Regions from separate parts of the Homo sapiens genome. Here region 1 is linked to region 2. Evidence: fine-mapped expression QTL. A gene starts in region 2. The other region holds a variant in brackets. All regions are shown on one strand. Distances are from middle to middle. Region 1 overlaps EXD3 (exonuclease 3'-5' domain containing 3). Region 2 holds the start of NSMF (NMDA receptor synaptonuclear signaling and neuronal migration factor).

Evidence for each region. PIP is the estimated chance that this variant, and not a neighbour inherited with it, causes the effect.
Region 1: its variant is the best candidate, but not a certain one, in a credible set for the expression of NSMF in whole blood (TOPMed, PIP 0.76).

The regions. Positions count from the first base shown.
Region 1 is chr9:137,392,342-137,397,742 of GRCh38, forward strand. EXD3 (exonuclease 3'-5' domain containing 3) reads right to left here. Exons shown (of 22, transcript NM_017820.5): 2 at 2,962-3,063. The coding sequence starts at 3,016. Among named protein-coding and RNA genes, the nearest start is that of EXD3, 28 kb to the right of the region's middle. The variant A/C (reference allele first, on the strand shown) is at 2,903.
Region 2 is chr9:137,456,081-137,461,392 of GRCh38, forward strand. NSMF (NMDA receptor synaptonuclear signaling and neuronal migration factor) reads right to left here and starts at 3,254. Exons shown (of 16, transcript NM_001130969.3): 1 at 2,952-3,254; 2 at 2,408-2,469; 3 at 1,327-1,821; 4 at 331-406. The coding sequence starts at 3,022. It overlaps PNPLA7 (patatin like domain 7, lysophospholipase), which reads right to left. Exons shown (of 35, transcript NM_001098537.3): 34 at 4,554-4,657; 35 at 3,872-4,396. The coding sequence ends at 4,313. RefSeq lists enhancers at 1,438-2,135, 4,959-5,312 and silencers at 2,775-3,044, 3,135-3,484.

The DNA of each region.
Region 1 (5,401 bases), 64 kb before region 2:
ACCTGGACCAGGCACTCTACCTAAAAGGACAAACCCAGGCCTGGCTGTCGGGGGCAGGGTCCCAGGGGCCACAGACGCGGATGTCCTGCTCAGTGACCAGGGTGGCACGGACAGGTGTCCAGGCAGCGAGGCGGGGCCAGCACAGGGGCCAGGACACCTCCTGGGAAGAAGCTGACCCAGAGCCTGAGTAGGGGAGCCCACTGGGGAGGGCTGAGCTGGGGCCTCTTGTGGAGCTGGCCTTGTTGACAGAGCTGGACACGAACCATGTAAGGGCAGATGCCTAAAGCAGCACAGAAAGGATGGGGGGATGTGGCCATTCCAGGAAGCGCCAGGCTGTTCCAGGGGGTGCTGTGTCTGTTCTGGGGGGGCTGTGTCTGTTCCAGGAGCACCAGGCTGTTCCAGGGGGCACCGAGGCTGTTCCAGGGGGCACCGAGGCTGTTCCAGGGGGCATCGAGGCTGTTCTGTGGGGGGGCGCCGTGTCTGTTCCAGGGAGGGCCATTAGTGTTCCAGGGGGCACCGAGGCTGTTCCAGGGAGGACCATTAGTGTTCCAGCGGGCACCATGTCTGTTCTGGCGGGGGGCCGTATCTGTTCCAGGGAGGGCCATTAGTGTTCCAGGGGGTGCTGAGGCTGTTCCAGGGGGCACCGAGGCTGTTCTCGGTGGGGGTGCCGTGTCTGTTCCAGGGAGGGCCATTAGTGTTCCAGGGGGTGCTGAGGCTGTTCCAGGGGGCACCGAGGCTGTTCTCGGTGGGGGTGCCGTGTCTGTTCCAGGGAGGGCCATTAGTGTTCCAGGGGGCGCCGAGGCTGTTCCAGGGGCCCTGCTAGCTGGGGTGTTGCACTTTGAAAACATCCCACTCTGCTTAGGTGGAGAAGAGGCTGTAGAAGCCTGTGGGTGCCTGTGCAGGGAGAGTCAGCTCTGTGCTGAGGCGAACCCAGGGTCCCATGCGCTCCCCGGCCCTGACGGCGGTCTCCAGGGGAGGTAACAGGGCCTCATCCCACACAGGTGCAGGCCCGGGGCCCGCAGATGGCCTCAGAGGAGGCGGTGGATGAACGGAAGGGTGAGGGGGTCTGGGCCCATCCCCAGAGGGGCAGGTGTGTGGTCAGGGCCCCACAGGACAGCCAGGGTTGTGCCTGCTGAGGGGGCCACATCCACACCAAGCCCCGCCCAGCTCAGAGGTGGCCCCTCCCCGAGCACACGCTGACCTGGCTACATCAGGGAAGGCGACATGCCCGGAGGTGCCCCCACAGCCCTCAGCACCCACTGGGACACAGAAGAGGAAGGCAGAGAGGAAGCCCCTGGAGGGGTCCAAGGCCCGAGGAGGCAACTGCGTGGGATAGGGAAACTGAGGCAGAGAGCCTCAGCTGCTGCCATGTGGGAGCAGGGCTTTCACAGAGGGGAGGGCCATGGCCCTGCCCCATGGAGGGGCTGCCAGGCAGGGCATGTGTAGGGTGGAACTGGGCAAAGGCCAGGGGGCGGTGAGTGAAAAGGCAGTAAACCCACAACAAACTGAGGGCCTGCAGCCCAGGGCGAGGCGGCTGGGCCAGGGCCTTACAGCTCTCACTGCTGTTTACAAGGACTGCAGGGTGAAGGATGTGAAGGGGCCCCGGCACCCCCTTCTCACCCTCTGCCCACAAAGCCATGGCCCCGGACAGCTCCCACTGGGGCCGAGCCCCTGCCAGGAGGCTTCCCGCCCCAGCCCGTCCCCGGCACAGAGAGCAGCTGAGGCTCGGGCTGACCCCTCTGGCACTAGGCAGCTCCACTCCTTCCCAGCCGCCGCTTCCCTAACCCCAGCCTCCCAGCCTCCATTTCCCTAACCCTGGCCTCCCAGCCTCTGCTTCCCTAACCCCAGCCTCCCAGCCTCCGCTTCCCTAACCCCGGCCTCCCAGCCTCCGCTTCCCTAACCCCGGCCTCCCAGCCTCCGCTTCCCTAACCCCGGCCTCCCAGCCTCCGCTTCCCTAACCCCGGCCTCCCAGCCTCCGCTTCCCTAACCCCGGCCTCCCAGCCTCCGCTTCCCTAACCCCGGCCTCCCAGCCTCCGCTTCCCTAACCCCGGCCTCCCAGCCTCCGCTTCCCTAACCCCGGCCTCCCAGCCTCCGCTTCCCTAAGCCCGGCCTCCCAGCCTCCGCTTCCCTAACCCCGGCCTCCCAGCCTCCGCTTCCCTAACCCCGGCCTCCCAGCCTCCGCTTCCCTAACCCCGGCCTCCCAGCCTCCGCTTCCCTAATCCCGGCCTTCCAGCCTCCGCTTCCCTAACCCTGGCCCAGTCTTCAGCTTGCAGGGTCTCGATCTGTAGGAACAGGAGGGAGAGAGGCTGCACCTCCCCTCGGGCTGTTTATCCTCAGCACTGAATCTGGCAGGGCAGCCGAGCGAGCGGGGATGCGGCCTCCCCGGCTTTGCCCACAGGGAAGGTGCCTCTCATTTCTCTTTTTTAACCTGAAAAAGCTGCTGGGAGGGCAGATGTTCTTCTTAACTCGAAGGGATGAAAAATGCCTCAGTTTAAAAAACTAGGGACCCTGGAGGCCACCCTGGAACCGCCCGAGACCCAAGAGGCTGTGGGTTCCCTGAGCCCCCAGTGGCGGCGCTAAGCCCCCAAGGGTGTTCCGGGCCCTCCGCCTGGCTCCCCGAGGGACAGAGGGGACCAGAGCTCCCACCTCTGCGGCCAGCCCTGAGCAGCTGCACTGTCCCCGCCACCTCCCCCGGATCCTGTCACAGGCCCGGCGCCAGGCCACCCACGCTGGGGCCCAAGGAGGCGGCCTGTCCTGACCCCCGAGGACAACAAGGCCACAGTGGGGCCTCCGGACTCACAAGGTCCCAAGCCGTGGACACTGTAGAGAGGCCCGCAGCTAGGGGCCAGCAGCCTGGCCCTCGTCACTGAGTACACAGTGGGCGCCACCACCCCCCATGCAC[A/C]CCCACGCACCTCCCCCCACAGCCCCAGGGAGACTCGGCACCATCAGGCTCAGACTCACCCATGCGGTGGCGCTCGCCAGCGGCAGGGTCACCAGCGGGATCTCCTGGGTCCATCCTCAGGGCCGGGCCGAGGACGCTGGCAGGCAGCTAGGAACGAGGATCTGCAGAAACAGACAATCAGGTGAATGCAGAGCCCACTGCAACAGGCAGCCATGCAGAGCCCACGCCCACAGCCCCTGGAGGTGGTGGAGGGAGCTGGTGCCTGGGGGGGCCCAAGTGGGACCCCCAGTCGCTGAGCATAGCGGGCAGCTCCACACTCCTCTCCCAGCTGGGGTGACGGCTGCCAAGTTTGGACCCTGCATTCCAGTTCCCTGCCAAACCGTCCCAGCTTTCAGCAGGGAGGGCAGGGGGTGGGAGGGGCCCTGGGGGGGGGCACAGTAGACAGACCCTCGCGGGAGTGCAGAGGGGCCTGTTCTTGAGGACAGCGTGACCCCCCTTGCCATGTCCCCCTCAGGCTGTGTGTCCTGCCCTGAGGGAGCCACATGGGAGAGAGGTGCTCTCCTCCAGAGGGCAAGGGCGCCTGCAGGACCAGGGACCTCGGAGTGACGCCCTCACGGCTGACCCAGTACGCAGCTCCGTAAGACTCCAGGCGGCCGCTGACAGCTCTCATCCCAGGCAGACCTCAGTCTCCCTCAGAGTGTTTTTTTTTCTTTTCTTTCTTTCTTTCTTTTTTTTTTTTTTGGAGACAGAGTCTCTCTGCAATGCCCAGGCTGGAGTGCAGTGGGGCCATCTCAGCTCACTGCAACCTCCGCCTTCCGGGTTCAAGCGATTCTCCTGCCTCAGCCTCCCGAGTAGCTGGGATGACAGGCATGCGCCATCACGCCTGGCTAATTTTTGTATTTTTAGTGGAGATGGGGTTTCCCCATGTTGGTCAGGCTGGTATCGAACTCCTGACCTCAGGTGATCCACCCGCCTCAGCCTCCCAAAGTGCTGGGACTACAGGCGTGAGCCACCGCGCCTGGCCCCTGGGAGTGTTTTTGATGCAAAACCCTTATCTACACTTACGAGGGTCACCCTTCTCCTTCAGTCTGCTTACGCAAGGCTGCATAAAAAGGCTTTCTCTGAGTGCATAGCTTTAGTTTGAATCACACACAGCAGTTACACAAAGCTCAGCATGTGAACTCCGAATCCTAACACAGGCGTGCAGGAGAGAGCTGTGCCGCCCTCCCCCAGGCAGCCCTCACGGTGGCCATTCCCGGGGAGACGGACCTGTGTGTGTTTCTCAGCCACACGCGGCACAGTCACTTAGAGGCCTTCAGTTTTACACATTACTGACAGCTCCGCCCAGGCAGGGTAAGAATCTGTCTCACCTGTCGGCCAACACGCACCCCTAAACACACAACAACACAACCTCCTGAAAAAAGTTACGTGGACATCGTCTGTGGACTCAGGACGGACAGAGGCCGTTCCCAGCCGCGTCACATGGAGGTTAGGATGCCTTTTCCTTTCTCACGCAGGCTGCTCCAGACTCCTGCTCCACCGTCGGGGAGGGACTGTGGCTCTCCCACTGCAAACGACGTAAAACTGGATGATATATCTTAGGAAACCAGTTTCTGGGCAACAGGCAGTGTGAGGCCACGTTTCCCGACAGCAGTCAGTGCCCAAGGCAGCCCCAGGACAGCTGCTCCCCACGCTGGAGCCTGGGCTGGGCACAGTGTCCCACCATGCCGAGGGGGCCACTGGGGGACACACACCTGCAGGAGGGGCTGCTGGGGCAGTGAGTGTGTGGGCAGGAGGACCCCCGAGCCTCCCAGGACCCGCGGCCCCAGGGCTGAGAATACAGTGGAGACACCAGAGGCCACACAGCGCCTGACACACTGCAGTCCAGGCCAGCCAAGAGGAAGGACCCCATCAACACACAACCAGGACCAGACGGCCACAGCCGAAGACCATGCTGAGAGGAAGGCCTGCTCCAGAGCCTCTCGCCAGATCCAGACCAAGCCCACGAAAGCCGGAGGACAGATCCAGACCAAGCCCGTGAAAGCTGGAGAAGGTTGAGTCCCACCCAGCTTAGGAGGCTTGAGAAAGGCCCTAGGCTCTCCGAAGAGCCCCTGACAAAACATCAAGACACAACCCCAAGTTCAAGGGACTCAGCCAGAAGCTGAACAGCCCACCGGAGCGAAAAACAATGCTCTTCAGAGGATGATACCTAAATCCAGAGTTTCCACAATGGATAATTCACGAAACTCAGCACGTAATAAAAATCACAAGACCTAAAAAGAAACAAGGAAATATGACCCATAAACAAGTGGAAAAACACAAAAAACAGAGAACAGAAAGCAACTTCGAGGAAGGCCTCAAAGTTATTGGTGTTAGCAAAGACTTTAACACAACGATTTCAACTGCGTTCACAGAATGAACAGAAAACATGTTCAAACAGTTCAAGGAGGCCGAGTGCAGTGTGGGAGGCTGAGGCGGGAGGATCACTTGAGCCCAGGA
Region 2 (5,312 bases):
GGGTTTGAGGGAGGGCAGACACAGGCTGAGGAGAGTGGATAGGAGCAGGAGAACCTGCCACACCCCACACCCCACTGAGAGCTCATCAGCTGCAGCCCTGGGCCAGGTCCCCTGACTGTGTGTGTGTGGGGGGGGGGGCTGGGCACCAGCCATGGGAGGGGAAGAGCAGTCAGCCCTGGCCTCCCTGGCAGGCCTGGCACAGCATAGGCACGTGGGTCTGTTCAGAAGCAGCCCCCCTGGTAGGCCCAGAGACTGGGAAAAAGTGCTGTTTCCTGAGCAGCAGAAAGAGACCACCCAACCCTGACCCCAAGTCGTGGGCACAAGACTCACGCTTGCATAGTTGTGGTTGCTGTCTGGAAGCTGAAAAGATTTTCCTTGGGGAACCAGGTACGAATAGGGATGTCGTCTAAGAGAGACAAAAAGGAGCGGTGGCTGGGTGAAGTAGGGGTTCCTGAAGCCTCTCCCTCCCTGTTGGGAAGCAGATGCTTCTGGGTCCAGGGGTCAGCAGAAGCTGGCAGCCAGGGCGGGTGGGGGGAGGGTGGCATCCCCACACGGGCACAGAGGGCAGTGCTCGAATGTCTGCTGCTCACTCACCAAGACCACGCTCTTGGTAACTTGACGCTTTGATTTTTTTGGCTTAACTTTCCCTTTGGCCACCCAAAGTTTGAGAAACATTCCTTTGAAAGCACAGTCTGTCTCCAGGAGGCCCAGGAAAACAATGCGTCTGTTTCCCTTGGGCAGAAGAGGCTCTGAGGCCTTCTCTGCAGCCCCCATGCTCTAGCTGGAGGCCCTCACCGAGGCTAGAGACCACCTTGCTGAGGGCTGTCCCCTTCCGAGGGCCCCCACAGCCTTTCCCTGATGCCCAAGTGTGGGGACAGTGGAGTGACTTTCTGCCTGGTGGACAAGCTACCACACAACTCAACAACCCTGGGGAAAGATGCCCACTGCCTGGCTGGGCCCCAACAGCTCCCCAGGACTCTCGGAGGGCAGCCCAGTCTCCTGATTAAGCGGTGCTTCCTCCCTACATATCCCTTAAGATCCTCCCAGGCCCCCTCCTCCAGGAAGCACTCCTTGATTGACCTGGTGCTAGCAGGGCGAAAGCGGACTGTGAGGCCTGGCAGATTTTGCTGAGGAGCTGAGGGAGCTCACAGCTCATAGGGTGTGGAGGCCGCAGCAGAAGCCTGCCGGTTTTAATCTTGAGTCCGCTGGCATGCTGTGACCTGAGCACCTGTTCTCTGTTCCAAGCCTCACAGTGGCTGCTGCTGTCAGACCCTGGCAGCGGCATGCACCCCCAAACCTGTCTATGCCCTGACACAAACCCCTCACCAGACACACGGTCAACGCTGTACATCCTCTCCAGCTTCTTGCGGCGACCGGAGGTCTCAGGCAGAGGTGGCTGGTCCAGCCCAAAGGCCCGAGGGGTGGGGCCAGGAGCCAGCTGGGCACATCCGGGGCACTCCTTGGAGCCCTGGCGGCTGCCCGCCCAGCTCTGGCAGGGCCTGCTGACGTCCTCCCGGCTGCCACCAGGGCTGGCGCGCAGGGGCTGGCTGTGATGGTGAGGGTGCCGCTGCCGCCGCCCCTTCACCACCGCCAGCTCAATGGCCTCCGCCTCAGGGCTGGGCAGCAGGGCAGGCTCCCCAGAGATGGTGTACACTCGAGGCTGAGGGCCCTCGCCTGCGGGCTTCCTAATGCTGGGCTCCTCTGAGAGGCTGCCCTCGTAGCAGCCGTTGGAGACGAGGGACAGGCGGCGCTTGTTCTGGGGGGCCGGCTGCATCTCGGGGGACCCGTCGTGGCCAGAGTAGGCATCAGCCAGCAGGTGATCTAGGAGAGACACTGAGTGAGCCTGCCTGCCGCGTGTGGGCCCCCCGCTGCCGGTTTCATAGCAGGCCGAAGGCAGAGAACACCCAGTGGGCACCTGGCCTCTGTGGGGGACTAGGGCTGCCCAAACCCTAGTCACTGGCGTGTTTCTGAGCCCCTCACTCCTATCTGGGCCTGAAGCTCTAGCATGTGCGTGGGGGCTGGGTGACGCTGTGCTACCTGTGTGCGGTCCTGCCGGGTAGGAACACGCAGGCCATCCCCCAGCCTGCGATCGCACCGTTTGCCTGGTGCCAACTTCCCCCTCCCCCCACCAGCTGGCCCCCAGAGGCAGTGGTGCCAGCCCTGGGGGAGCCAGGAGGCCTGTTGCCATGCCAACGGCCCAGGCGGGGTGGGTGCCATGGTGACGAGCGGCTGGGAACTGCTCCTGGGGCTCGGGCAGGGAGGGCAGGGGATGTAAGGAAGCCAGGCCGGCAGGGCGCCGGGCCCACGCGCAACCAATGCCCCTCACGCTCCACCCCCGGAGGCAGGGATCAGCATCCCTTGGGCTGGGGGGTCTGGGCGGCCCTGGCACGGCCTCGCGTGCCCCTACCTGCGCCGTTGCGGTTCTCAGGGTGACTCTGGGACAGGTACTCTCCAAACGCTCGGGCTGCTCTGAGGGTGGACAGAGGGCACGGTCAGAGGCCACGGCACGACCCTCCCAAACACCGGGCCGCGCAAGAGCCGGGGGTCCGGTCCCCAGCCAGGCCCTCGGCGTCTGGAAGGAGGGTCGGGGTCGTCCCCCTCCGGGAGCCCACACACCCTTGGTCCTGGTGCGCCCTGGCCAGGCCTGCAGGCCCGGCCCCTGCCCGTCGGACCGTGGAGAGGGGTCGCGAGGCCGGTCGGCTGCTGTTCCCCGGGGGAACCGAGGCCACTCCCGACCTGGGGGGTGCGCTCGCCCACCACGCGCTCGCGAGGGGAGGGGAGGGAAGAGCAGGGCAGGGGACCAGGAAGAGGGAGGCGCGGGGCGCGGGGAGGGCGCCTCAGTGGCAGAGGCCGGGGCCCGGGAGCCCGGGGAGCACCGCGGGGCAGGGGCGGACTCGGGCGGGGTCGGAGGTCCAGGGCGGGGTGCGGGAAGGCGGCCCCGCCGCACTCACCGCACTTTGGCCGCCACCGAGGACATGGCCTCGCTCCTCAGCGCCCTCCTCCTGGAGGCGGCGGCGCCCATGGTCGAGGCGGCGGCGCATCCCCCGGGCCTCAGAGCGCGCCCCGCGCCCGCCGCCTCCGCCGGGGTAGCCGCGCCGCACCGGGGGTCGCGCTCGGGCTCGGGCTCGGGGTCTCGCTCGGGCTCCGGCTCGGGCTTGGGCTCGGGGTCGGGCTCGGGGTCGGGCCCGGTCCCCGCATGGCCGCACCCGGCGCTCCGCGCGTGCCGCCGCTCCCGGGAGAGCGCTGCCCGAACCGAGGGCCGGCCCCGCCCATCGTGACGTCAGGGCCCGGGCGGGCCCAGAGGGGCGGTCGGCCCCACCTACCGTGACGTCAGGGCCCCGGAGAGCTCGGAGAGGACATGTGGCCCCGCCCACCGTGACGTCCGGGCCCGGGTTGAGTTGGGGGCGGGGCCGGGCGGCCTGGCTCCGCGCCCTCTCGTCCAGGCCTCCAGAGCGGGGAAACTGAGGCCAGCGGCCCCCTGGTCGCAAAGTCCTGGGCCCTCGGCCCTCACGATCTGCTGCTCAGACCTGCAGGATCACAGGGAGGCCGGTTCTCCCTCCCCTTACACAAAAGGGCTCCCTGTGCAGTTTGGGAACTGGAAACCGAAGGGGAAGCCAGTTTAGGGGGCACCCAGTTTGCACGAGGCCAGAGAGAGACAGAGGGGCCCGTCCTGGTCCTGGGGGGCCACAGCTCTATGCAGACTCTGGACGCCCTACCTGCCTGGCCTGCATTTGCCGCCCTAGGGCTCTCAGGCCCCAGCAGTGGGGTCCTTTGAGGAGGACTGGGGACTGCCCAGCCTCAGGGACCACCCGCATCAGGGAGAACCAGTAGTGTTTCTTTGCCACAGGGACCTCGGCCCGGGAGACACGTCCAACAGTGAGATCCACCTTTATTGAAACATCACACGGCAGCATCAGGGCTCCCACACCTCACAGGGCAGCAGGCAGTTCACAGGACAGCAGGCAGTTCACAGGGCTTTGGGGGCCTCACAGGGCAGCAGGTGGTTCACAGGGCTTCGGGGGGCCTCACAGGGCTTCGGGGGGCCTCACAGGGCTGCAGGGGGTTCACAGAGCTTCAGGGGCCTCACAGAGCTTCAGGGGCCTCACAGGACTGCAGGGGGGCTCACAGGGCCCTGTATGCAGGGCTGCTGGTACAAAGAAGAGGCCCAGAGAACCCTAACACAGCCTGGGGCCCCGGGGAAGTCAGGGCTTCCAGCAGGGCAGGTACAGAGGCCCCTAGGACTTGGCAGGAGCCTCAGCCTTGGGGACAGTCCCACGGAAGACGCTGCATCCGGGCTCTTTAGCAGAGGCCTCTACCCGTCCTGGTCAGAGGAGCCCTCAGACAGTTTTGGGAAAGCCAGACTGGGGTGTCGATGCCGCAGTGAGGACTCGTCCTCCTGCAAGCAGACCGCATGTTCCAGGTGAGGACCAGGCAGGGCAGGGGCTCTGCAGCGCTGGTAACCCGGTGGGACCACAGGGAGGGAGTGGCCGGCACAGGGCCAGGCACCAAGGCTCAGCTGTGGGCACCAGGTGGGACCATGCCCAGCTCCTCACCAAGTCTGAGCCCTGCTGGGCTGAGGTGCTCTGGAAGTCTGCGTATGCATCCCTGGGGACGTCCAGCAGCTCCTCCTCGTACTCCGTCTGGTAGTCAGATTCGTCTGGCACCGAGGGTAGGGCTGCGTCAGTCCCCTCCCAAGGAAGGGACCGTACCCAGCATAGCCACACTCAGAGGCAGAACCGGCCACAGATGCCCACCCCCGCCTCCAAGGTGGCCCGGGGCCCTACACGCAGCCACCTGGTCCCAGGGCAGCCCTGCACACCACCCCTGGTTCTGTCTGGCTCCAGCTTTGCCCCAGCACATCACTTCGTGGGTCTTCCACAAGGACAAGGAGCGGGCAGACACTCCTCCCCTTGTCAGCCAAGCACCCTGAGGGCTCCAGCACCCCAGACCTGGCAACTGTGGATAGGGGCTGCCTTGCCCAGGGCCCTCTCGGCCTGCGGCAGCCATGAAGACGTCTCCCAGGAGAATGTCCAGTTCTGCTGTGAGGAGGCCACTGGCTGAAGGCCCAAGCGCAGGGCCCTGGATGGAGCATGGAGGGTAGTGGACCCGCCCTTCTTGTCCTGCGGCCCCTCCAACAAGCAGCCTTCATTCCCATTTCCCACTGGGTGGGGTGGGAGGCAAAACGTGGTTCTACTTCAGGCCTGAGGTGTGGCTGGGAGTTGAGGTGAATGAAGGGCAGGGGCTGGGTGACCCGGGGTGGTCACAGTCCCACTGCTGTGGGAACACGTGGTGCCCGGGACGGAGGAGTGCCA